7 linked regions of the Homo sapiens genome follow. The protein of the gene in region 6 purifies or fractionates together with the protein of the main gene of each other region. This does not show direct contact. Each region holds a gene or a part of one and is shown on either strand. Other genes may lie near its edges.

The links.
Region 1: the proteins of RBM25 (region 6) and PRP4K purify together in Homo sapiens (affinity purification with mass spectrometry; 2 studies listed by BioGRID and IntAct, with this or other methods). This does not show direct contact.
Region 2: the proteins of RBM25 (region 6) and ACAP3 purify together in Homo sapiens (affinity purification with mass spectrometry; one large-scale study listed by BioGRID and IntAct). This does not show direct contact.
Region 3: the proteins of RBM25 (region 6) and PPIL4 purify together in Homo sapiens (affinity purification with mass spectrometry, with the first as the bait; one large-scale study listed by BioGRID). This does not show direct contact.
Region 4: the proteins of RBM25 (region 6) and UPF2 fractionate together in Homo sapiens (co-fractionation; one large-scale study listed by BioGRID). This does not show direct contact.
Region 5: the proteins of RBM25 (region 6) and POC5 purify together in Homo sapiens (co-immunoprecipitation; one large-scale study listed by IntAct). This does not show direct contact.
Region 7: the proteins of RBM25 (region 6) and CPSF7 purify together in Homo sapiens (affinity purification with mass spectrometry, with the first as the bait; one large-scale study listed by BioGRID). This does not show direct contact.

What each region holds. Positions count from the first base shown.
Region 1 is NC_000006.12:4,055,800-4,059,299, forward strand, and holds part of PRP4K (serine/threonine-protein kinase PRP4 homolog), read left to right. Parts: exon of another isoform or gene 1-453; intron 454-521; coding exon 522-636; intron 637-727; exon of another isoform or gene 728-889; intron 890-1,236; coding exon 1,237-1,388; intron 1,389-2,928; coding exon 2,929-3,015; intron 3,016-3,500. UniProt on the Homo sapiens protein: Serine/threonine kinase involved in spliceosomal assembly as well as mitosis and signaling regulation. Connects chromatin mediated regulation of transcription and pre-mRNA splicing.
Region 2 is NC_000001.11:1,301,431-1,304,930, reverse strand, and holds part of ACAP3 (arf-GAP with coiled-coil, ANK repeat and PH domain-containing protein 3), read left to right. Parts: intron 1-118; exon of another isoform or gene 119-202; coding exon of another isoform or gene 203-249; intron 250-787; coding exon 788-845; intron 846-1,649; coding exon 1,650-1,769; coding exon of another isoform or gene 1,770-1,799; intron 1,800-1,955; coding exon 1,956-2,009; intron 2,010-2,884; coding exon 2,885-2,943; intron 2,944-3,500. UniProt on the Homo sapiens protein: GTPase-activating protein for the ADP ribosylation factor family.
Region 3 is NC_000006.12:149,536,044-149,539,543, reverse strand, and holds part of PPIL4 (peptidyl-prolyl cis-trans isomerase-like 4), read left to right. Parts: intron 1-3,500. UniProt on the Homo sapiens protein: PPIases accelerate the folding of proteins. It catalyzes the cis-trans isomerization of proline imidic peptide bonds in oligopeptides.
Region 4 is NC_000010.11:12,029,310-12,032,809, reverse strand, and holds part of UPF2 (regulator of nonsense transcripts 2), read left to right. Parts: intron 1-3,285; coding exon 3,286-3,500. UniProt on the Homo sapiens protein: Involved in nonsense-mediated decay (NMD) of mRNAs containing premature stop codons by associating with the nuclear exon junction complex (EJC).
Region 5 is NC_000005.10:75,700,438-75,703,937, reverse strand, and holds part of POC5 (centrosomal protein POC5), read left to right. Parts: intron 1-1,127; coding exon 1,128-1,333; intron 1,334-3,500. UniProt on the Homo sapiens protein: Essential for the assembly of the distal half of centrioles, required for centriole elongation. Acts as a negative regulator of centriole elongation.
Region 6 is NC_000014.9:73,110,534-73,114,033, reverse strand, and holds part of RBM25 (RNA-binding protein 25), read right to left. Parts: intron 3,204-3,500; coding exon 2,879-3,203; intron 2,726-2,878; coding exon of another isoform or gene 2,610-2,725; exon of another isoform or gene 2,507-2,609; coding exon 2,232-2,506; intron 1,883-2,231; coding exon 1,784-1,882; intron 1-1,783. UniProt on the Homo sapiens protein: RNA-binding protein that acts as a regulator of alternative pre-mRNA splicing. Involved in apoptotic cell death through the regulation of the apoptotic factor BCL2L1 isoform expression.
Region 7 is NC_000011.10:61,423,476-61,426,975, reverse strand, and holds part of CPSF7 (cleavage and polyadenylation specificity factor subunit 7), read left to right. Parts: intron 1-3,500.

The sequences.
Region 1 (3,500 bases), on a different chromosome or scaffold from region 6:
TAATATTTTTTAGACTTGAAGTGATTGCTAAATTTGGGATCATATAGCAGCTTCGGATGAAGAATATTTTGTTTTTGTCCAAGTTTATTCTGAATCACCCTTCTGCTTTCATTGCCATTGTAATTCTCTGGCAACTGAAAGTTAAGTCTGATTCCTTAGTTATAAAACTTGACTTTATTCAGGTATTCAGGGTCTTTTTAGAAGATGCTTTGCTTCATGAAATTAGATTTTTCTCTCAGTACCCCACCCTTTTAAAAATGCAGTTGTTAAAATTAAATGTACTTTGTGATATCCATTTCCTCACTGAAAACAGTTTTTACTCATTGTAATGAATATTTGATACATATTAACTTTTCATAGTTAGGAAATTGAATTAAAAATAAATAGAAAAGGAATTTTTAAATGAATGTCTTTGTTCTCAGTATTGGAATTAATAAAACTTTTCAAAGCCAATAATTTTTATTTATTTGTATTAATTATTCCTGGCTTGAATTAAATTCCCTTGAAAAAATGTTTTGCAGGTTAATGAATCCAAAACTATTTTAAAGCTTTGCGATTTTGGGTCGGCTTCACATGTTGCGGATAATGACATAACACCTTATCTTGTCAGTAGATTTTATCGTGCTCCTGAAATCAGTAAGTTTCTTAATGTTCTTTGACCTGGGCCATCATATGTGGTGGAAACCGCATACTTAATGTCTAAGCACTGTTTTCCATCACACTTCAGCAGCTGCACGAGTTCATTCATGAGGAAGGGAACCATAGCAAGTTCATCCTCCTCAGGTGGAATGAAGGTAGTTGTGACAGGAGTCTTGATCATGTCGGGCAAGAGTAGCAAAACAGTTGTGGAAAATCCTCGACTTTAGAAGACTGCTCTTGATTATTCAAGGTCTGATTATCACATTTATGGATTGTATGGGACCTTTGTTTTTTCCTGTTGCCTTGGTTGAGGCTGATTAGCACCTCCACCAAAGGCGAAATGAGAAAAGAGAAGAAATACATATTTTCTTTTGCCCTTTAAGTTCCTCCCCTACACCTCCATTTTTTAAGGTTTTTAAGTTTGAGTCTCTATTAAGAATTAGTGGGAAAGAACACAAAACTAATTGTCAAACTAAGGCATGAAGATTGTGGTTATAGTCCAAGCTAAGGTAGCCAGCCCCTCATTAATGGAAATAAAAATTAATAGTCGTCAGTTTTCTCTATCCTCGTATATTAAAACTTTGATTTTGTTTTCAGTTATAGGTAAAAGCTATGACTATGGTATAGATATGTGGTCTGTAGGTTGCACCTTATACGAACTCTATACTGGAAAAATTTTATTCCCTGGCAAAACCAATAACCATATGCTGAAGCTTGCAATGGATCTCAAAGGAAAGATGCCAAATAAGGTAAGACATTAGCATGAGCTTCTTTAAGGTCTTAGTTTCTTATTAACTGACAAGACTGCTGACACTTGCTCACCACTAGTGAGCTATAAAACAAAAATTTCAGAAAGGTGGGTAGATGGCTATCATGATTTCTTAGGGTCTTTCCCTTTTCTGGTGTTTTAAATTAGTGGTTCTAATCAGCCAAGCGCTAAGGATAAGAGAACTTGTTCAATGATGGACAGAGAGCAGCAATATTTTGGGGATACACCCTTATGGGTAAAAGTTTCAAAATGTTTGGAAGACAGAATGGAAAAAGATGTAAGTTGAATTAGGTAAAATACAAGAACATGCTTAGTGGTCAGAGAATGAATAGGTGAATATTAGATATTGTAAGAGGAACTTGATGTTAATTAATTTATTAAAGATTGGAGGTTATTTGAGAAAGTAAGGTACCTTTCTTGGTACCTTTTCTTATTTAATATCTTTCTAACTCACCGCTGATACTTCAGCTATAATGCTAGTTTCTGTTTAACATGAAGCAAGAATGTAAGCATTTATTAAAGTATCTGAGGGCCATAACTTAGCTTTTTTTTTTTTTTTTTTTTTGAGACGGAGTCTTGCTTTGTCGCCCAGGCTGCAGTGCAGTGGCGCGATCTCAGCTTACTGCAAGCTCTGCCTCCCGGGTTCATGCCATTCTCCTGCCTCAGCCTCCCGAGTAGCTATAGGCATGAGCCACCGCACCCGGCTGTAACTTAGCTTTTTAAGATTTCAGCCTATTTGCTGAATTTCTAAAGATTTACACATTTTTCGTAAAGGTCAGAAAACTGTATGGTTTTCAGTTGTGTTTTGTTGTTGTTGTTGTTTTGAGACTGGATCTTGCTCTGTGTCCCAGACTGGAGTACAGTTATAGCTCACTGCAGCCTTGAACCGAACCCCTGGGCTCAAGCAGTTCTCCTGCCTCAGTCTCCAATGTAGCTGGGACTACAGGCATGTGCCACCACAACCAGTTAATTTATTTAATAATTTTTTTGTAGAGATGGAGTTTCACTATGTTGACCAGGCTGATTTGTACATATTGTCCAAATTCTATTAGGTTGGACTTTTTTTAGAATAAGTTACATAAAAATGAGCTATGTTGGTATTAGTTTTAATGAAGTCTGACCTGTATCAGGGCTGTTGGAACATAATTAGTAAAGTGGCATTAGGTTCCCTAACTGCCAAGGAGAAAAAACCTGAGTTTTGTGATATTTTTAGGAAGAAATAATTTAAAGTCTTTGTTGACTCTCCAATTTTAAATAGTGAAAGGACAATTTGATGTTATAATTGTTTTAAGTCACTGCCTGGACAAATATAATTTCATGTTATTAAGTAGTTTTAGGTACAGCATTGGTATTTGCTTTTGCAAAGATGTTAATGAATTCCTGGGATCAAGGGAATCTGAGATCAAACAAACCTACAGAGACTAAATAACATACTTATTTGACTTATTGTATATTAATTAAATTGTTAGTAGGCCTGTTTCATAATAGTTCAAAACCCAAGTTTTTGTTTTGTTTTGTAGATGATTCGAAAAGGTGTGTTCAAAGATCAGCATTTTGATCAAAATCTCAACTTCATGTACATAGAAGTTGATAAAGTAACAGAGAGGGTAAGTGTTTTAAATGCAGCATGCAATAGTTATTTTATTGTTAACTGAGTACTAAATCATACGAGCTGGTGAATTAAAAAAAAAACAAAAACCCAAAAGTAAGTATTTCCTTTTTGCTGTCGACCAATTCCTAAATAAAACACATCAGACCATGGAAAAGATGGAGGGATTTTAAAATGTTTTTCTAGCATAATTAATTTATTTTTATTATAGGTCATATTTAGGCCCTCGTCACATCTTCTTTGGATTACTTTCTTGGTCTGGCTTCCCATCCAGCTTTCTTATTGCTGCTAGAGTGATGTTTCTGAAAACATATCTGGTCATGTTCCTATCCCTGCTTAAAAACCTTTGTTGGCTCCCTGTTACCTATGAAATAATATTTAAGTTCCTCAGAATGACAAATCCAACTGCTTTCTTCAGTTTTCAGACCTCTCTTCAGTACATTCAGAACCCCCACCTTTCCACATTTGGCCAGAAGGCGTGCT
Region 2 (3,500 bases), on a different chromosome or scaffold from region 6:
TTGTGTGGAGGGCTGCCGGGATCCTGGCCCTGTTTCCCTGTTGCCTGCTCCCGGAGGGGGTGGTCACGTGCCCGATCCATCTGCCTCCTGTCTTCCGGGGATTCTCCCGCCGAGGCTTCTCTGGTGATGTCATGCCTTAACTCTTCTCTCCCCAGGCAGCCCCACTGTCAGGCTGTCCTGGTGGGAGTGGGCTCTGAGGAGGATGGCCTACCCGTCTTTCCAGCGGACCATGCCGCTTGCAGCTGTGAGGTTGGGGGAGCCGGGGGCGTCTCTCCCCAGCTGGTCTGGGTCCTCCTGGTGCTGCCAGGACCGAGAGCAGCTGCCCTACTGCCCCCACCCTGTCCCACAGTGCATGGGTGCCAGACCTGGATGGGCTGCAGTAGTGCAGTGGGGTGAGGGGAGGTGCCGCAGGGTTGAGGGGCTCCAGATGGGTCCAGGGTTGACTCTGAACTCCTAGAGGAGAGGCGGGTGAGGCTGGCTCAGCCCTTGGTGGGCACTGTCCCTGAGGGACTCCCAGCGGCCGGCTGTCCTGGGAGAGGCTGGTCCAGCCTTCTTCCCCGAGGGCACAGCAGCGGCTGCCTCTGCCTGCCTGGGGTTGGGGGGGCGGGGGGAAGTGCACTGAACCTGGTCCCAGTCCTGCCCCCGTAGCAGGCAGGCGTCTGTCTCCCAGCCTGTTTCCTGAAAGCCCCTTCCCATGGTGGAGCCCCTCAGGGAGGTGCGGGGGGAGGTGAAGCCCCGAGGGGGCTGAGGCTGCAGGTGACCCCAGCCAGCCCCGTTCTTGCTTTAGGGCGACCATTGACGAGGTGGAGACGGACGTGGTGGAGATTGAGGCCAAACTGGACAAGGTGAAGGGCGGGCCTGGAGCGCCCTGTGCCCGGCCAAGCTTGGGATGGCCACATGGCCAGACTCGCCCTCCAGGCCTTACTAAGCCACTTACACCCCCCATATGTGGAGCATGCGTGTGGTGCTCCAGGTCCTGGTCCCTGTGTCTTAGCATGTGTGTTCCAGGGTGCACATGTCACATGCACACATGTGGCTGGCCCTGAGTCTCGTCCCATCTGGGAGGGGCTGGGCTGTGGTGAGTCCCCGACCCACGGTGGCTGCCCGTCCCCTCTGCTGGGCTGGTGACACGGGGACAGCTGCTGTGTGGGCTGAGCCTTGGTGTGGCTGGGGCTGGGGCTGAGAAAGGGGAGGGGGCAACAGGCCGTGGAGGGGGGAGCCGTGTCCATGAGCCCCACATGGGCTGAGAAAGAGGGGGCAACAGGCCGTGGAGAGGGGAGCCGTGTCCATGAGCCCCACATGGGCTGAGAAAGAGGAGGGGGCAACAGGCCGTGGAGCTGGGAGTGGGCAGCCTTATCCATGAGCCCCACATGGGCTGGTTCTGCTGGTCCTGCTGGCCCTGGGTCCCCTGCCTGGCTCCTGGTCCCTCCCAGCCGAGCCGTGGCGGCCCCACCCTCCCCTCCCAGACGGGCCTCCAAGCCCCAGGCAGGCCCAGGCGTGAGGAAGCTGCACCGGGGCACTGAGTCCTGAGTGCCAACGCCCTGAGTGGAACCTACCCTGGGAGCTCTTCCTGCCTCTGAGTGGCCGTGTGTGGTGGCGAGTGCAGGCGCCAGTGCCCACTGTGCTCACCACGCCCCGCTGGCCCACAGCTGGTGAAGCTGTGCAGTGGCATGGTGGAAGCCGGTAAGGCCTACGTCAGCACCAGCAGGCTTTTCGTGAGCGGCGTCCGCGACCTGTCCCAGCAGTGCCAGGGCGACACCGTCATCTCGGTGAGGGGCCGACTGACCTCTGACCTCAAGGTGGGGTTGGGGGAGAGGCCGAGGGAGGCAGCCCCTTGAGGGCGTCCAGGCCAGAAGCAGGCCGGTGTCTGCACCGCCCAGGGGCTCAGAGGGCGTGGCTGGGTGACCTGGGCCCGGATTTGCCATCTCAGCACGGGTTCCCATCTGCTCCTCCAGGAATGTCTGCAGAGGTTCGCTGACAGCCTACAGGAGGTGGTGAACTACCACATGGTGAGCGCGGCCTCCCTGCCACCTGTGGGCTGTGCCTGGCCTGGAACCGAGCTGCGCTGGCTCACCTGAAGGCCGGCGTCGGGTTGGGGGGGGCACGTTTCTGCTCCTCTAGTCGGGGGGGGGGGGAATCCCACATTTTCAAGTCAGTGTGGGGTTGGGGGACAGCCCTGGGGGCTCTGCCGTGTCCCAGGCAAGGGCCACACTAGACCCTGGGGGAGGGGTGGTTTATCCAGGGTTCCCCCAACTGGGCAGGGCTCTCGTCCCAGGCTGGCCTGGCTGCCATTTGGGTCTGGGTGGCCCCCGGGGGCCCTGGCACTGACGTGGATGGACACACAGGACAGGCACCCGTGAGATGTGGGGCTGCAGCCTGGGAACCTGAGCCGCAGACTGAACAGAGGAGGTCCCGAAGTAGACAAGGCAGGATGGCTCAGCCGTCCCTTTGCTCCTGGTTGTGCCCGGTCCTTCTCTACTTCGGGTTCCGATTCAGAGCCCAGGCTCCAGCTCCCCAGGCCCAGCCCCTGGGTGCTCCCGGCTCTGGCTGAGTGCTCCCTGCTGCAGGGATGGGCACCCCAGGGTGGCCGCCCAGGGCCAGGAGGCAGTGGGGCTCCGGCTCAGGCTGTGATGAGGCAGCCTTGGCCTCTGCACTCATCAAGGGCCAGGTGGGACAGAGGGGCAGGGGTGACAGCCATCGCCTCTGAGTGCCAACTCAGGCCTGGGGGCTGCTCCCCTGACCCCCTTGAGGCCAGCCCTGCAGGGTGGGACCCGCCCCTGCATCTGGGCCTGGGGGCAGTGCCCTCTGCTGGTGAGGATGGGGCCTTCCATCTGGGGCTCTTTCGGGACAGACCCCAAGGATCTCTGCCCGCCTCTGCCCCCAGATCCTGTTTGACCAGGCCCAGAGGTCCGTGCGGCAGCAGCTCCAGAGCTTTGTCAAAGAGTGAGTGGCCCCCAGGGCTGGGGGAAGAACACTGAGGCCACGCTCCCTCCCTTGGAGGGGAAGGGGGTCTGGGGCAGAGCAGAGGCACCTTGGGCCCAGGCCTCCAGGCTGTGCAGCGGCTCCACAAGGCAGAAGGCTCAGAGGCAGACAGCCGGGTGGAGTGCGGGGGGTTCCACACCCTGCATGTGTGGGTGGGGTGTCCAGCCCCCACAGCAGAGAGGTCCAGTCCACGTTGGGTTTGGGGGTCTGGAGTCTGGGGCATGGCTGGGGTCTGGGCTGGACAGATCTTGAGAGTGAGGTGGGGAGGGGCTGGGGAGGCCTGGAGCAGATGATCGGGGTCAGCAGGGGTGCGGGCAGGCCTGGGATAGGCTGGTGAGGAAGGAGGCTATGCCCAGGAGCAAAGAAAGGGCCTGGAGTGGAGGGGGGTGGGGCTGGGCATGGTGGCTCACACCTGTAATCCCAGCGTTTGGGAGGCCAAGGCCAGAGAATGCCAGGAGTTTGAGACCAGCCTGGGCAACGTAATGAGACCTCCATCTCTACAAAAAAAAAAAAAAAAA
Region 3 (3,500 bases), on a different chromosome or scaffold from region 6:
TAGCTGAGCATGGTGGTACAGGGCTGTAGTTCCTGCTTCTTGGGAAGCTGAGGTGGGAGGATCACTAGAGCCCAGGAGGTCAAGGGTGCAGTGAGCTGTGATTGTACCACTGCACTCCAGCTTGGGTGACAGACCTTGTCTTGCAAATAAATAAATAAATAAGACAACAGAAGTCTGCCATGTTGATGGACTCTTCCTTTCATGAAAGATTTCTGTGTATCATACGATGCTGTTGGATAGCATTTAGTAGAATTCTTTTAAGATTGAAGTCAATCCTCTCAGACCCTGCTACTACTGTATCAGCCAAGTTTATGTACTATCCTAAACCTTTTGTTGTCATTTCAACAGTTATCATAGCATCTTCACCAGCAGTAGATTCCATCTCAGTAAATCACTTGGCTGGGTGCAGTGGCTCATGCCTGTAGTCCCACCACTTTGGGAGGCTGAGGGGGGCGGATCACCTGAGGTCAGGAGTTTGTGACCAGCCTGACCAGTATGGTGAAACCCCGTCTCTACTAAAAATACAAAAATTAGCTCGGCGTGGTGGCAGGCGCCAGTAGTCCCAGCTACTTGGGAGGCTGAGACAGGAGAATTGCTTGAACCTGGGAGGTGGAGGTTGCGGTGAGCCGACTTTGCACCACTGCACTCCAGCCTGGGCGATGCAGCAAGACTGTCTCAAACAAAAAAAAAAAAGGAAGAAAACCACTTTGTTTGCTCATCCTTAAGAAGGAGCTCCATATCTGGTCAGGTTTGATCATGAGATTGCAGCATTCAGTCCCATCTTCAGGCTCTACTTCTAATTCTCGTTCTCTTGCAGTTTCCACCACATTTGCAGTTACTTCCTTCACTGAAGTCTTGAGCCACTCAAAGTCATCCATGAGGGTTGGAATCTACTTCTTCTTAACTTCTGTTAATGTTGATATTTTGACCTCCTCCCACAAATCACGAATGTTCTTAATGACATCTAGAATGGTGAATCTTTTTCAGAAGGTTTTCAATGTACTTGCCCATATCCATCAGAGGAATCACCATCTATGGCAGCTATAGCCTCACAAAATGTATTTTTTTTTAATTTTTATTTTTAGAGATGGGGCCTCACTACGTTGCTCAAGTGATCCTTCTACCTCAGCCTCCTGAGTAGCTGGGACTACAGGTGCATGCCACATGTCAGGCTGTATTTCTTAAATAGTAATACTTGAAAGTTGAAATTACTCTTCGATCCATGGCTGCAGAATGACTGTTATGTTAGCAGGCATGAAAACAGTATTTTTTTTTTTTTGAGACAGATTCTCACTCTGTCACCCAGGTTGAGTACAGTGGTGCAGTCTCACCTCACTGCAACCTCTGCCTCCTGGGTTCAAACAGTTCTCTTGCCTCAGCCTTCTGAGTAGCTGGGATTACAGGTGTGCACCACTACGCCCGGCTGATTTTTTGTATTTATAGTAGAAATGGGGTTTCACCATGTTGACTGTGTTGGCCAGGCTGGTCTTGAACTGGCCTCAAGTGATCCACCTGCCTCAGCCTCCCAAAGTGCTGGGTTTACAGGTGTCAGTCACTGTGCACAGCTGAAAACAATATTAATTTCCTTGTACATCATATCCATCAGAGCTCCTGGGTGACCTGGAGTATTGTCAATGAGCAGTAATATTTTAAAAGGATTTCTTATTAAAAGAGCAGTCATATTTAAAAGGATCTTTGTTCTGAGCGGCAGGTCTCAACAGTGATCTTAAAATATTTGATAAACCCTGCTGTAAACAGATGTGCTGTCATCCAAGCTTTGTTGTTCCATTTCTAGAGCACAGGCAGAATAGATTTAGCATCATTCTTTTTTTTTTTTTGAGATGGAGTCTTGCTCTGTCGCCCAGGCTGGAGTGCAGTGGCGCAATCTCTGCTCACTGCAAGCTCCACCTCCAGATTCACGCCATTCTCCTGCCTCAGCCTCCCAAGTAGCTGGGACTACAGGCGCCTGCCACCACGCCCGGCTAATTTTTTGTATTTTTAGTAGAGACGGGGTTTCACCGTGTTAGCCAGGATGGTCTTGATCTCCTGACCTCGTGATCCACCCGCCTCGGCCTCCCAAAGTGCTGGGATTACAGGCGTGAGCCACCGCGCCCGGCCGATTTAGCATCATTCTTAACGGCCTTGGGATTTTTGGTATAGTCAGTGAGCATTGGTTTCAACTTAAAGTCACCAGCTGGATTAGCATGTAACAGAAGAGTCAGCTTGTCTTTGAAGCTTTGAAGCTAGGCATTGACTTTTCCTCTCTAGCTGTGAAAGTCCTAAGTGGCATCTTCCAATATAAGGCTGTTTCGTCTTCATGGAAAATTTGTTATTTCATGAAGTCATCTTCATCAGTGATCTTAGCTAGATCTTCCAGATAACTTGATGCATGCTGCAGCTTCTTTTTTTTTTTTTTTTGAGACAGATTCTCACTCTGTTGCCCAGGCTGGAGTGCAGTGGCATGATCTCAGCTCACTGCAACCTTCGCCTCCTGGGTTCAAGCAATTCTCCTGCCTCAGCCTCCTGAGTAGCTGGGATTACAGGCACACGCCACCATGCCTGGCTAACTTTTGTATTTTTAGTGGAGACAGGGTTTCACCATGTTGGTCAGGCTGGTCTTGAACTCCTGAGCTTGTGATCTGCCTGCCTCGGCCTCCTAAAGTGCTGGGATTACATAGGCGTGAGCCACTGCACCTGGCCACTTGCTGTAGCTTCTGTGTCAGCACTTGCTGCTTCACCTTGCACTTTTAAATTATGGAGACAGCTTCTTTCCTTAAATTTTTCTTTTCTTTTTTTTTTTTTTTTGAGATGGAGTAATTCACTGCGCCTGGCCTCTTTCCTTAAACTTCATGAATTAACCTCTGCTAGCTTCAGACTTTCTTTTGCAGCTACCTTCCCTCTCTCAGCCTTTATAGAATTGAATAAAGTTAGGGCTTGTTTGGAATTAGGCTTTGGCTTAAGGGATCGTTGTGGCTGGTTTGACCTATGTAGATTACTAAAACCTTCTTCATATCAGCAGTAAGCCTGTTTCATTTTATCATTCATGTGTTCACTGGAATAGCACTTCTAATTTTCTTTAAGAACTTTTCCTTTGCATTTACAACTCAGCTATTGTTTGGTACTAGAGGCCTAGCTTTCCGCTTATCTTGGCTTTCAACGTGCCTTTCTCACTATGCTTAATCATTTTTAGCTTTTGATTTAAAGTAAGAGATGTGCCATTCTTCCTTTTACTTGAACACTTAAGAGTCTCTTGTAGGGTTAATTGGCCTCATTTCAGTATTGTGTCTCGGGGAATAGGGAGCACTGAGAGGGAGAAAGATGGGAATGGCTGGTTGGTGGAGTAGTCAGAACACATACAACATTTATGGATTAAGTTCACCATCTTATATGGGCACAGTTTGTGGTGCCCCAAAACAATTGCGGTAGTAAGATCAAAGATTATAGATGGTAATAACAGATACAATAGTAATGAAAAAGTTTGAAATCTTGTGAGAATCACC
Region 4 (3,500 bases), on a different chromosome or scaffold from region 6:
AAGCTATAGTAGTGCCTAGTTTTGGAATATTCAGAACCATGATTCTTAAGAGAGTCTTTTTTTTTTTTTTTTGAGACAGGGTCTTGCTCTGTCACCCAGGCTGGAGTGCAGTGGCCTGGTCTTGGCTCACTGCGATCTCTGCCTTCTGGGCTCAAGTGATCCTCCCGCCTCTGCCTCTTGAGTAGCTGGGACTACAGATGCATACCACCATACTTGGCTAATTTTTGTATTTTTTGTAGAGACGGGGTTTTGCTGTGTTGCCCAGGCTGGTCTTGAACTCCTGAGCTCCTGGGAAAATTTCAGATATATGCAAAAATAGAATAGTATAGTGAACTAGTCCCCCATCTACCTAGCATCAATAATTACCCACTTTTTCCCCCTGGAGTATTGTAGAGCATCATAGCATTTACCCATAAAAACTTCGATATATAAGTGTTTTCAATGCAGCTGAAAATTGAGTTATTTAATGTATGTACATACTTTCTTTTCTTTTCTTTCTTTTTTTTTTTTTTGAGACAGAGTTGTTTCACTCTTGTTGCCCAGGCTGGAATGCAATGGCGCGATCTCGGCTCACCGTAACCTCCACCTCCCAGGTTCAAGCCATTCTCCTGCCTCAGCCTCCCGAGTAGCTGGGATTACAGGCATGTGCCACCATGCCCGGCTAATTTTTGTATTTTTAGTAGAGACAGTGTTTCTCCATGTTGGTCAGGCTGATCTCGAACTCCTGACCTCAGGTGATCCACCCGTTTTGGCCTCCCAAAGTGCTGGGATTACAGGCGTGAGCCACGGCACCCAGCCTTGTACATACTTTCTTAAAATGTACTTTCACTGCTCATTTTGTATTTGTGTGTTGCTGGGAGACTTCAAAGAGATACTCAACTGTCCATGTTCTCAGTGATAGAGGCCACCTTTCTGTTAATATATTGTAGCTTTTAATGGAAAAATCAAATAATTATCTTATAACTCAGGGGTGATTATCTCAGAAAGATGAAAATGTACTTTTTTAGAGATTTATAGATATGCGTATAACTTTTTGAGACAGGGCTCACTCTGTCACCCAGGCTGGAGAGCTATGGTGTGATCATGACTCACTGCAGCTTCAACCTCCTGGGCTCAAGCGATCCCCCCGTCTCAGCCTCCCAAGTAACTGGGACTACAGGCATGTGCCACCATGTCCAGCTAATTTTTAAAATTTTTTTGTAGAGATTGGGTCTTACTATGTTGCCCAGTCTGGTCTTAACTCCTGGGCTCTTCCCACCTCAGCTTCACAAAGTGGAGATTTAAGTTATGTGTTTTGTTATCTCAAAAACTTCAATAAACTTCAAAATCAGATTGTTGCCCCTCACTCGTGCCTATTTTATTACTTCTGCAATTTAAACTTGTTCTGTCTTTTTAGTGGAAAAATAGGTATATTTGTTTTTGGTTATTCTTTTCAGTATAAACTGAGTCTACTAGGTTTTTATTAAGTTTCTTATTTGATAGTTGTCTTCTGGTTCCTTTCCAAATTTTCTAAATCACTTGAATTTTTAAGAGCCCAAACATAGCAAGGTACTTTGTTAAAGGTTTGGCTAATGTGCTGAGGATGGAAAAACAATATCTAACATTGCAAAACTGTTTTGTTTTTTTTTTTTTTTTTGAGATGGAGTCTTGCTCTTTCGCCCAGGCCGGACTGCAGTGGCACTATATCGGCTCACTGCAAGCTCCGCCTCCCGGGTTCATGCCATTCTCCTGCCTCAGCCTCCTGAGTAGCTGGGATTACAGGTGCCTGCCACTGCGCCCGGCTAATTTTTTGTATTTTTAGTAGAGACGGGGTTTCACTGTGTTAGCCAAGATGGTCTCGATCTCCTAACCTCGTGATCCACCCGCCTCGGCCTCCCAAAGTGCTGGGATTACAGGCATGAGCCACCGTGCCTGGCCTTTTTTTTTGAGACAGAGTCTTGCTCTGTCACACAGGTTGGAGTGCAGTGGCATGATCTTGGCTCACGGCAACCTGCGCCTCCCGGGTTCAAGCAATTCTGCTGCCTCAGCCTCCTGAGTAGCTGGGACTACAGGCGCGTGCAACCATGCCCTGCTAATTTTTTGTTATTTTTAGTAGAGATGGCGTTTCACCATGTTAGTCAGGATGGTGTCGATCTCCTGACCTCGTGATCTGCCTGCCTCGGCCTCCCAAAGTGCTGGGATTACAGGCGTGAGCCACTGCCCAGGCCTCAAAACATTTTTAATGCATTCTTTTATAGTGCTAATTATTATTATTATTATTATTATTTTTTGAGGCAGAGTCTCGCTCTGTTGCCCAGGTTGGAGTGCAGTTGGGAGATCTTGGCTTACTGCAGCATCAGTCTCCGACTCCCAGGTTTAAGCAATTCTCCTGCCTCAGCCTCCCAAGTAGCTGAGATTACAGGTGCCCACCACCACGACTGGCTGATTTTTGTATTTTTAGTAGAGACGGGGTTTCACCATGTTGGCCAAGCTGGTCTCGAACCCCTGACCTTAGGTGATCCACCCGCCTCCCAAAGTGCTGGGAGCCACCACATCTGGTCTTGTAGTGCTAATTCTTTAAATAATTCTTTGTGTATAATTGTTTTTTTTTCTCTTTGCCCATTGCTTTTATTTGTTTCACATTTTACATCCTTCCCAAACATACTATATTTTTCACAGTAGCATTATATGTCTTACCTAGTTAGCTTGCCAGTTGGCAGAATGATTTTTAATTTTAATCTAGTGTCAGTATCCTCTGCTCTATGACATTTGTTATCGACCTCCAGTACTGGGCTTCTCATTAAGATAATACTTGTTATCGTTAGTCGTTAGTAAAATGTCTTTATGTGTTTTTTTTTTGTTTTTTTTTTTTTGAGACGGAGTCTTGCTCTGTCGCCCAGACTAGAGTGCAGTGTCACGTTCTTGGCTCATTGCAACCTCTGCCTCTTGGGTTTAAGTGTTGTGCCTCAGCCTCCTGAATAGCTGGGACTACAGGTGAGCGCCATCACGCCCAGCTAATTTTTGTATTTTTAGTAGAGGTGGGGTTTCACCATATTGGCCACGCTGGCCTTGAACTCCTGACCTCAGGTGATCTGTCTGCTTTGGCCTCCCAAAGTGCTGGGATTACAGGCATGAGCCACCATGCCTGGCCAGTAAAATGTCTTTAAAAGTAGTGAAAGGCCTTTTGAATCTTGTAGATTGTTATACTTAGATAATTTTTTTCATTGGCTTTTTACTCTTAGGGGATTTGTGTATAATGCTTCAAAATGTAGAGAGTATTTTATTTATTTGTTTGTTTTTATATAGAGAAAAAGAAGAATCCATTCAGCTTCATCAGGAAGCTTGGGAACGACATCATTTAAGAAAGGAACTTCGTAGCAAAAACCAAAATGCTCCGGACAGCCGACCAGAGGAAAACTTCTTCAGCCGCCTCGACTCAAGTTTGAAGAAAAATACTGCTTTTGTCAAGAAACTAAAAACTATTACAGAACAACAGAGAGACTCCTTGTCCCATGATTTTA
Region 5 (3,500 bases), on a different chromosome or scaffold from region 6:
ATGATTCGCCCACTTCAGCCTCCCAAAGTGCGGGGATTACAGGCATGAGCCACCGTGCCCAGCCTTTCAGTGCTTTTTTAGAAATAGATACCTGTTCTCTTTAGGGCCCTGACTCTCCCCCACCTCCCTGGATATGGGCAGGGGATGAGCGTTTTATATATATGCACATACATATAGAGATGTGTACATTTCTCACCTCTACATTGAAGCCTAACAGTGTACTTAACAACAGAGTATCTGCAAAACTAAATTATGAGTCTCTTTCTACTTAAATTGTTTAATTTTAATAGGTTTTTTGTTTGTTTTTGTTTTTGGAGACAGAGTCTCATTCTGTCACAGGCTGGAGTGCAGTGGCACGATCTCGGCTCACTGCAACCTCTGCCTCCCTGGTTCAAGCAATTCTCCTGCCTCAGCTTCCCGAGTAGCTGGGACTATAGGTGCGTGCCACCACACCCAGCTAATTTTTGTATTTTTAGTAGAGATGGGGTTTCACCTTGTTGGCCAGGATGGTCTCAATCTCTGGACCTCATGATTCACCCGCCTCGGCCTCCCAAAGTGCTAGGATTACAGGCATGAGCCACCGCGCCCGGCCGAATTTTAATAGTATTAAAACCAATCCCAGTGTTAAACTTACAGAGTAATATTGACCTATATACAACCACACTGACCTTGGTCAATTACTTAACTTTTTCTGAACCTCAGTTTCTCATCAGTAAAATGGAGATAATAATACCTATTTTTTAGGGTAGCATGTGTTATGAGAACTAATCTTTATAATGTTTTTATTACAGAAACAGAAAGCACTTCATTAATGGTGATATGATACAGATGATGATAGTTTCACCTCAGGCTGGACCTGGATATATGAAGGATCCTTATCTGGGATAGAGGTCATTTGCTGGGAGAGAAGGGATTGGGAGTATAGGAGGTATCTCATGCCAGTCTGTGCTAAATCACTGACAATACTGAAATTAAAAATAGATTAAGGTACACCTGAAAGGTAGTTTCTCTGCATTTTTTCTCAGCCTCCATAAGTAGCAGACGTCTTTTAGCCTTCCAGTATGGTTCCTTACCAACTTGAGTTATTTTCAATTTGGCTTGACAGCTACAACTTTTCTTTTATTCAGAGTCATCACCAGTGTTATCGCCAAGGAAGCCTTCTCACCCAGTCATGGATTTTTTCAGTTCACATCTTTTAGCTGACTCTTCCTCACCAGCAACAAATTCTAGTCATACAGATGCCCATGAAATACTTGTGAGCGATTTTCTTGTTTCTGATGAAAACCTTCAGAAGATGGAAAATGTGCTTGATCTTTGGAGTTCAGGTCTTAAGGTACGGTACAGCAGTTCTTCAATTACAGTTGTTTAGTATGTAATGTAATAGTTTTACTCTCATTTATACTGTTTTGTTTTTTTGAGTTAAACTTTCTAAAAATCTTTTGTTTCCTGAGATCAGTTTAGTGTCTTAAGTCTTGCTTCTCAATCTTTAATGTACTTACGAATCATAGCGGGAGCCTGTTAAACTACAGCTTCATATGCAGTAGGTCTTCAGCAGGGCCTAAGATCGTGCTTCTTTTTTTCTTTTTTTGACTCTTGTTTGTTTGTTTGATTTTACTTTAAGTTCTGGGATACATGTGGTGAACATGCAGGTTTGTTACATAGGTATACATGTGCCATGGTGGTTTGCTGCACCTATCAACCTGTCATCTAGGTTTCAAGCCCCACATGCATTAGGTATGTGTCCTAATGCTCTCCCTCCCCTTACCCTCCACCCCCTGACAGGCCCCGGTGTGTGATGTTCCCCTCCATGTGTCCATGTGTTCTCATTTCTGTCAAGCTCCCAGGTGTTGCTACTGGTTCAGAAACTGTACTTTGAGTTGCCAGGTTTTAAGTGGTTGCTGGAACGGTTCTACATGCTCCATTGAATTTCACAGATACTTTGAATGGCTCAGCCTGTGTGTAACTGAGACATACTGTGCCTTTACCATATCGTAGTTGTGACTAATAGAAATGTCTCCTTTTATGCAATAACGAAAGATCCAATTTTAGCAATGGATATTCATTTTATAGCCACTCCTATAGCAACTATGATGTGTAAGTGATAAAACTATAAAAGTTGATTTTTATTTTGATACTACTGGCCTTTAAGTAAAACAAAGTATTGCAGAAATAGTAAGTGGGTTTTATTTATTTATTTATTTATTTATTTTTATTATTATTATACTTTAAGTTTTAGGGTACATGTACACAATGTGCAGGTTAGTTACATATGTATACATGTGCCATGCTGGTGCGCTGCACCCACTAACTCATCATCTAGCATTAGGTATATCTCCCAATGCTATCCCTCCCCCCTCCCCCCACCCAACAACAGTCCCCAGAGTGTGATGTTCCCCTTCCTGTGTCCATGTGTTCTCCTTGTTCAATTCCCACCTATCAGTGAGAATATGCGGTGTTGGGTTTTTTGTTCTTGCGATAGTTTACTGAGAATGATGATTTCCAGTTTCATCCATGTCCCTACAAAGGACATGAACTCATCATTTTTTATGGCTGCATAGTATTCCATGGTGTATATGTGCCACATTTTCTTAATCCAGTCTATCATTGTTGGACATTTGGGTTGGTTCCAAGTCTTTGCTATTGTGAATAATGCCGCAATAAACATACGTGTGCATGTGTCTTTATAGCCGCATGATTTATAGTCCTTTGGGTATATACCCCGTAATGGGATGGCTGGGTCAAATGGTATTTGTAGTTCTAGATCCCTGAGGAATCGCCACACTGACTTCCACAATGGTTGAACTAGTTTACAGTCCCACCAACAGTGTAAAAGTGTTCCTATTTCTCCACATCCTCTCCAGCACCTGTTGTTTCCTGACTTTTTAATGATTGCCATTCTAACTGGTGTGAGATGGTATCTCATTGTGGTTTTGATTTGCATTTCTCTGATGGCCAGTGATGGTGAGCATTTTTTCATGTGTTTTTTGGCTGCATAAATGTCTTCTTTTGAGAAGTGTCTGTTCATGTCCTTTGCCCACTTTTTGATGGGGTTGTTTGCTTTTTTCTTGTAAATTTGTTTGAGTTCATTGTAGATTCTGGATATTAGCCCTTTGTCAGATAAGTAGGTTGTGAAAATTTTCTCCCGTTTTGTAGGTTGCCTGTTCACTCTGATGGTAGTTTGTTTTGCTGTGCAGAAGCTCTTTAGTTTAATTAGATCCCATTTGTCAATTTTGGCTTTTGTTGCCATTGCTTTTGGTGTTTTAGACATGAAGTCCTTGCCCATGCCTGTGTCCTGAATGGTAATGCCTAGGTTTTCTTCTAGGGTTTTTATGGTTTTAGGTCTAACATTTAAGTCTTTAATCCATCTTGAATTGATTTTTGTATAAGGTGTAAGGAAGGGATCCAGTTTCAGCTTTCTACATATGGCTAGCCAGTTTTCCCAGCACCATTTATTAAATAGGGAATCCTTTCCTCATTGCTTGTTTTTCTCAGGTTTGTCA
Region 6 (3,500 bases):
TACAAGTTAGAGAAGACAGAGTAAATTTACTGTTCATAATATCAAAAGAGCACTACTGGCAAAAAAATACCATAGCTATACCTTTATAGAAATATGGTGTTTCTACTATGTTAACTGTTTTATTAAAGTTAAGACTATGTTTTCAGGAGACAATGGGAAGATATACCTTAGTGGTTAAGAGCATGGGTTTCAGAGGCTAGACTCAGTATAAAACATAGCCAAGACACAATCTCTCCTTAAACTTCAATTTCTTCATGTATAAAATGGGTATAACATTCATGACAGACAGATTCTAAGTGTTAGGTTAAAAGAAGTTTTTCTTTTTTCTTTTTTTTTATTTTGAGACAGAGTCTCACTCTTGTCACACAGGCTTGGAGTGCAATGGCGCAATCACAGCTCACTTCAACCTCCGCCTCCCGGGTTCAAGTGATTCTCCTGCCTCAGCCTCCCGAGTAGCTGGGATTACAGGTGCCTGCCACCCAGCGCACCCAATTTTTGACTTTTTAGTAGAGGCGGGGTTTTACCATATTGGCCGGGCTGGTCTCAAACTCGTGACCACAAGTGTTCTGCCCCATTGGCCTCCCAAAGTGCGGGAATTACAAGGCGTGGGCCACTGTCTTGTTAACATTTTATAGAACTTTATCTTCGGCTGGTGTGATGGCTCACGCCTTGTAATCCCCGCACTTTGGGAGGCCAACTTGGGCAGATCACTTGAGGTCAGGAGTTCAAGACCAGCCTGGCCAACATGGTGAAACCCCATCTCCACTAAAAATACAAAAAATTAGCCTGGTGTAAACCAAACACCACATGTTCTCACTCATAAGTGGTAGCTGAACAATGAGAACACATGGACACAGGGAGGGGAACATCACACAGCTGGGCCTGTCGGCGGGTGGGGAGCTAGGGGAGGGAGAGCATTAGGAGAAATACCTAATGTAGATGACAGGTTGATGGGTGTAGCAAACCACCATGGCACATGTACTCCTATGTAACAAACCTGCACGTTATGCATATGTATCCTAGAATTTAAAGTATAATTTAAAACAAAAAAAGAAAAAAAAAATTAGCAGGGTGTGGTGGCATATGCCTATAGTTCCGGCTTCTCAGGATACTAAGGCAGGAAGATCAGTCTAGGCTGGGCGTTCAAAGCTGCAGTGAGCCATGATTGCGCCACTGCACTCCAGCCTGTAGGACAAAGCAAAACTCCGACTCAAAAGAAAAAACAAAAACAAAAAACAAAAAACAAAACAAAACAAAACAAACAAAACTAACACAATACCTGCCGAGAACACAGCCTGTCAGTCAATAAACACTGATCGTTACTACGATATGAAAGGAACTATTTTGATCCTATCCAAAGGATGGGTGACTGACAAAGGAGTTGGGAAAAGATATTGGCTACGTCCAAAAAATCTCAACATAATTATTCCAACCAAGACAAGAAGAAGATGGCACAGCATTCTCAGGGGCAGAAAGACAGCACACAATTGGCAGTAACCAGCAATTCCATCCTCCTCGACCACTGAAATAAAAACATGTGGTGTGAGGAGTCTGAAGTTGGATGGAAAGGTTCATTAAAGCAGACATAAATCTGCATCCACTGCAGTGAATAAAAAAAAACACACCAAAAATAAAAATAACTTTAAAAAAGCAGATATAAATCACTTAACTGAACCTAAACCATCATGGAACTTGACTCTGTAAAATTTCTGCTCTTTTAAGAAGTGTCTAATATTTTAATATATAAAATAAATGCTGGCATGGAAGAGAATAGAAGACTAACCTTAGAACAAACAAAATCAACTAATGTAGCTTCTTCTTCACCTATATATTCTATGATTTTCTTATTAATCCATGGTCTAATTCGACGTTCCATCAGTATCTGCAAAACAAACCACGGTTACTGAATTAAAGAATTGTAACTTGCTATAACAGTTATTAAAGCTTCATGATTTTTCCTGAGACTAAAATATAATGTTATTTCACAAGTTGAACTAAGACAGATATGTATCAAGATACAATCATCTGCTTTTAGTAAGTCTTCAAGTAGCACAAAAAAAATTTCCATTATTACTAATTTCTTGACCATGGCATTGAGTTGGTGTCAAGATGATCATCCCTACTTATTTGTCATTAATAGAATCAAATGAGGTTTTTTTTTCTTCAAATGAATTTGTATGGCATATTCCAACTGTTCCCAATAATATGATGAAATATAATTTCCTACTCACAGAATCCACAATAGACCAATCCAGGGGATAAGCGAAGAGCTCAGGTTTGGCTGTAGGGATTTTCTCAATGAGACTCTTAATGTGTTTACGCTTTTCTTCAGTGTTTACAGTGCCTTTGGTTGCATTTTTATCATCTTCACCATAATCCAAGGGAACCAGTTTCCTTTTTCGGGGTACGTCATCACTGTCTTCATCCTCAAATTTGTTAAAGACACTATCTACAGGTAGTTTCTTTCTCTTCACAGAATTAGGCTGACCAGGACTATTGGAAGCACCTACAGTAAAAACACTCTCTTAGCAAGATGACTTAATTTCCAAATGTTTCATTTTATAACCCACCATCCCTCAAAAGCAATGCAAAATATACTTCCACAAATCTTAGAGAAAGATCCCAACTGTAAAAAATAACTCACTACTCACAAGTGCTAGAAAATTAAACTTTTCACTTCTTCTCAGAACTCGAGGCAGCTGCAGATATAGGAGCACTAGTAAAACTATGAAAACAATCGTGAGCTAGAAAGGCATTTTTTAGTAATCTTCTATCTACCTAACCAAGCACAAATATAAATTTTTTTCTTTAAAGCACAATACAGGTATTTGCAGGGGTGAAGGGAAGAAAATAAAGAAGGAAGGAAATGCTAACGTACCCAGTTTAAGACTTAGTCCTATTTTTGGCCTATGCTCCTCAGGTTGCTGTTGATCTGGTGAGTTTTCATGAGGAATAATAATACCACAGGGAGACTCATCCCCAGGAGTGTTAGGTGTTGCATTGCCACTGGCAGAGGAAACAGATGGAGCAGAGCTGATGGGCCTCAGAGTAGGTTTCAGACAAGGCTTTTGCTCTGGCTCCTCTTCCTCTTCCATGGGTTCTTCTCGTTTTTCTTCTTTTTCTTGCTTTTCTTCTTCCTCCTCTTCTGATTCTGGCTCTTGCTTTATTTGTGGCTGCCTGCGCCTCTCAGCCTCTTGTTCCATCTAAAACCCAAACAATAATCTGATTAACTACAACTCTACACCATTCAACTTGATTTTTGTTTTACATTACCTCTTGTAAAATATCTTTATGAAAAGAGAAAAGGCCAGGTATGGTGGCTCATGCCTGTAATCCCAGCACTTTGGGAGGCCGCGGTGGGCAGATCATCTGAGGTCAGGAGTTTGAGACCAGCTTGGCCAACATGGTGAAACGCTGTCTTTACTGAAAATACAAAAATTAGCCAGGTGTGGTGGTGCACGCCTGTAATCCCAGCTACTCAGGAGGCTGAGGCAGGAGAA
Region 7 (3,500 bases), on a different chromosome or scaffold from region 6:
GCTCGCTGCAACCTCCTTTTCCCAGGTTCAAATGATTCTCCTGCCTCAGCCTCCTGAGTAGATGGGACTACAGGCGCGCGCACCGCCATGCCCAGCTAATTTTTGTATTTTTAGTAGAGACGGGGTTTCACCATGTTGGCCAGGATGGTCTCAATCTCTTGACCTTGTGATCTGCCCACCTCGGCCTCCCAAAGTGCTGGGATTACAGGCGTGAGCCGCCGTACCCAGCCACCTTTGTTATTAATGAAAAGCTTTTCCCCTTCTAATTTCTTATCTGTGGATTGATAATAGTGCCATTCATTTCACTTTGAGAAATACGCAGAACTCATTGTCCAGTGGTCACTGCTTTGTTAGAGTATAAGTTATTGGCCTCAATAGTTTGTTCTCTGGTCTCCTCAGTTAAAAAGGACTTTTTTATGGGTCTAAGACAGGCTAAAGGTAGTATGTGGACTTTAATAGATACATATATCCAACGGGCAATATTTGACACTAGGCAAGCTGAAGAAAGTGTGAATTTTGAATATCTTATGTTTTGTGGAAGGTGAGGGATGAGTGCTTCCCCCCCACACACATATCAATTAGTTATTTTTGACAAAGTTAGTGTTAGTGTCATCTGGAAGCTACAGAAATTATTTAAAAAACAAAAAAACAAAAAAACTTTGGCTAGAATTGTTAGAAGCTGGCTTAGTCTGAAGGCACCCAGTACAAATTGTGTTTTAGAATGTTTTAAGAATGTTACTGATTTCGCCCCAAGCTGGCCCATGCACAGGAAGCCCTTCATGTGCACTTTGCTCCTCAAGGAAAATTAATATTTTTCCTAGATGGAACCCTATGGTGCTTATTCCCTGATCTCTTAGAGCATTTGCTGCAAAAGCCTGTTTTTGCCAGAGCTACTTTATTCCTGTAACACAGGGAGTCCTGGGATTCACATTGGCTCTCTTGGGCCAGGGAGAACTCTGGAAAGGTGACTGAGATCAGTTGCTCTGCTGGGAGTTTTGGCTTTTCATACTGAGACAGGCTTTGCACAGTGTCCAGTTCTCTTCCTTATGTCCATCAATAAGTATTTATTTATTGAGCTACTTGTGTTTGCTAAGCACTGTGCCAGGACTAGTGAGGTAAAAGGAAAAAAAAGTGGGTCCCTGTACTCAAAACAGATTCCACTCCTGGTGGGTAGGGGTGGTGGACAACGACAATGTACAGTGAAGGACAAGGAGGGTGTGAAGTGGGAACTGTGGAAATGGTCATTATAAAGCCAAAATTTTTGATTAAGCCTTGGTTACAATTAAAAGAAACAATGGTATCAAGTTGGTTGCTCTGAGAAAAATAAATCCTAGGCTAGTTACTTCCCTCAGTGGGATATGAGGAAGAAGAGGGTGGAGGTTAGGAACACTGAGCAGACAAGTGGAGAAGATCTTATTTAAATTGAAAATCACACATGTTCTCTTTTGTTTACAGGGAAGCAGGAAGTTTCATGAGACAGTCACAGTTCTTTCTGTGCCATTAAACACAAAATTCTTTGAGATAGTTATTCAGTATTAAATATATGTTTCATGTTTAATCTCCCTGGAATGAAACTTTGAACATCAGTGCATGTAAAATGTACTTTTCACTTAATTTGTAGAATTTGATTTTACTTTAATCTATTACTGCATAAATCCGCTGAGAAAAATCTCCGGCCCTTAACTGTGTTTCTGTCTTACTAGCTGAACAAGTAAAATGAATTGTGATGCTGGGGGATTAAAATCCAAACAATTTGATACCTTGTTTCTTCAGTAGAACCCTCAACAGACCTGCCCTGTGCAGTTCCCACCAGCTTCTTTGAACTGAGGCTCTGTGGCCCAGAGAGACCATTTAAATCTTGTGATAATTTTGTATTCATTCAATCCTTTTGTTTCTAAAAGTGGTAGCCATACCAAGATTCTCCAGGATCTAGTCTATCCTATTCTTAAGGGATCTTAAAACAGTGGATTGGTTGCCTAAGCATATAGTACGAAGGGTTTCCTGGTGATGCATTTGGTCTCTGAGCTGTCCAAATCTGCATGTTAGTCCACTACTCAATTTTCAGTGATCATTTTTACATTACAAATTTTAGACACATATACCTGAATTACAGATACTGCATGGAAGGGAATCTCAGTTTGGTTCCATTCGATTATCCAAGATGATGTGTTTCCTTATTCTGTTTACGTGTCATTTGAAAATCCTTGATTTAAAAAAAAAGAAGGCTGGGTGCAGTGGCTTACGCCTGTAATCCCAGCACTTTGAGAGGCTGAGGTGGGAGGATCACCTGAGGTCCGGAGTTAGAGACCAGCCTGGCCAACATGGTGAAACCCCATCTCTACTAAAAATACAAAAATTAGCTGGGTGTGGTGGTGCACACCTGTAATTCCAGCTGCTCGGGAGGCTGAGGCAGGAGAATCACTTGAACCCAGGAGGCGGAGGTTGCAGTGAGCCAAGATTGCGCCACTGCACTTCAACCTGGGTGACAAAGTGAGACTCTATCTCAGAAAAAAAGAAGAATCTTGGTGTGAAGTAGTGCTTTCTAAGGATTTGAGCATTGGATGGGATCAAGTGATGTATATAAATCCTTTCTCTACCTTGAACCACAGGAGCAACTCACCATACCTGGTACATGAATAGAAGAGTGATTTGTCTATAGAGTTGGGATAGTTTGAGACGTAACAGCTATGAAATATTTTATAGTGATTACTTACACACAAAATGTTTTCCCACTCATTAGCCCTAGCTGACCTCACCTTACTTTATTATCCACCCTGTCCTCTCCAGTGTTAGCTTCTCTCCTCATTCTTTACATGCTGACCCTTTTTATGCACAATCCTTTTTGATGGATTTGACTACATGGAACAAGCTTCCTGTGCTTATTTGCCTCACTAATTTCTTGTTGTTAAGTTGCCCCCTAAAAGTTTACTGTCTCTTGATATTCTTTTTCTAACGTTTTTACAAGGGTTAAGCCCTCCTGGTGGGTTTCTTAGAGTGTTTTAATATTTGAAATTATTTATATGCTTTAGGAAGTAGAATCCTTCCCCCTTCTCTATCAGAACAACCCAAGATTATTCTCTTAGTGTGCATTTTCTTCCACTGTACTTCAGATAAACTGAAAAACTGAAAGATTGTTTCCAAAGGTTCTTATAATACAAGGACTGGTCTAAGAGTAAATTTTTTAGTGAGTCGTCTTCAGATCACTTCAGAATTAGCAGTTATTGCCGTGATATTGGAGGGAGAAAGTTAAGGGAGCCGCCTGTCTTTAGTTGCCTTGGAGAAACTGTTTCTTCAGGGTACTAGACAAGTTTCCCAACTTAGGTGCCTCCTTTATTCCCTTTTTAAAAGAATAGCAATATGAAACTGCCGTAGCATCCTTAAAACACTGAACTACTTGCTGTCTCTGTCATTTTGGCAGCATTATCTTTAGCATTGTTTGAATGTTTTGTCTAATTCTTGTAATAAAAATAAAATGCTTGTCTAATCCTTAAAAAGATTTC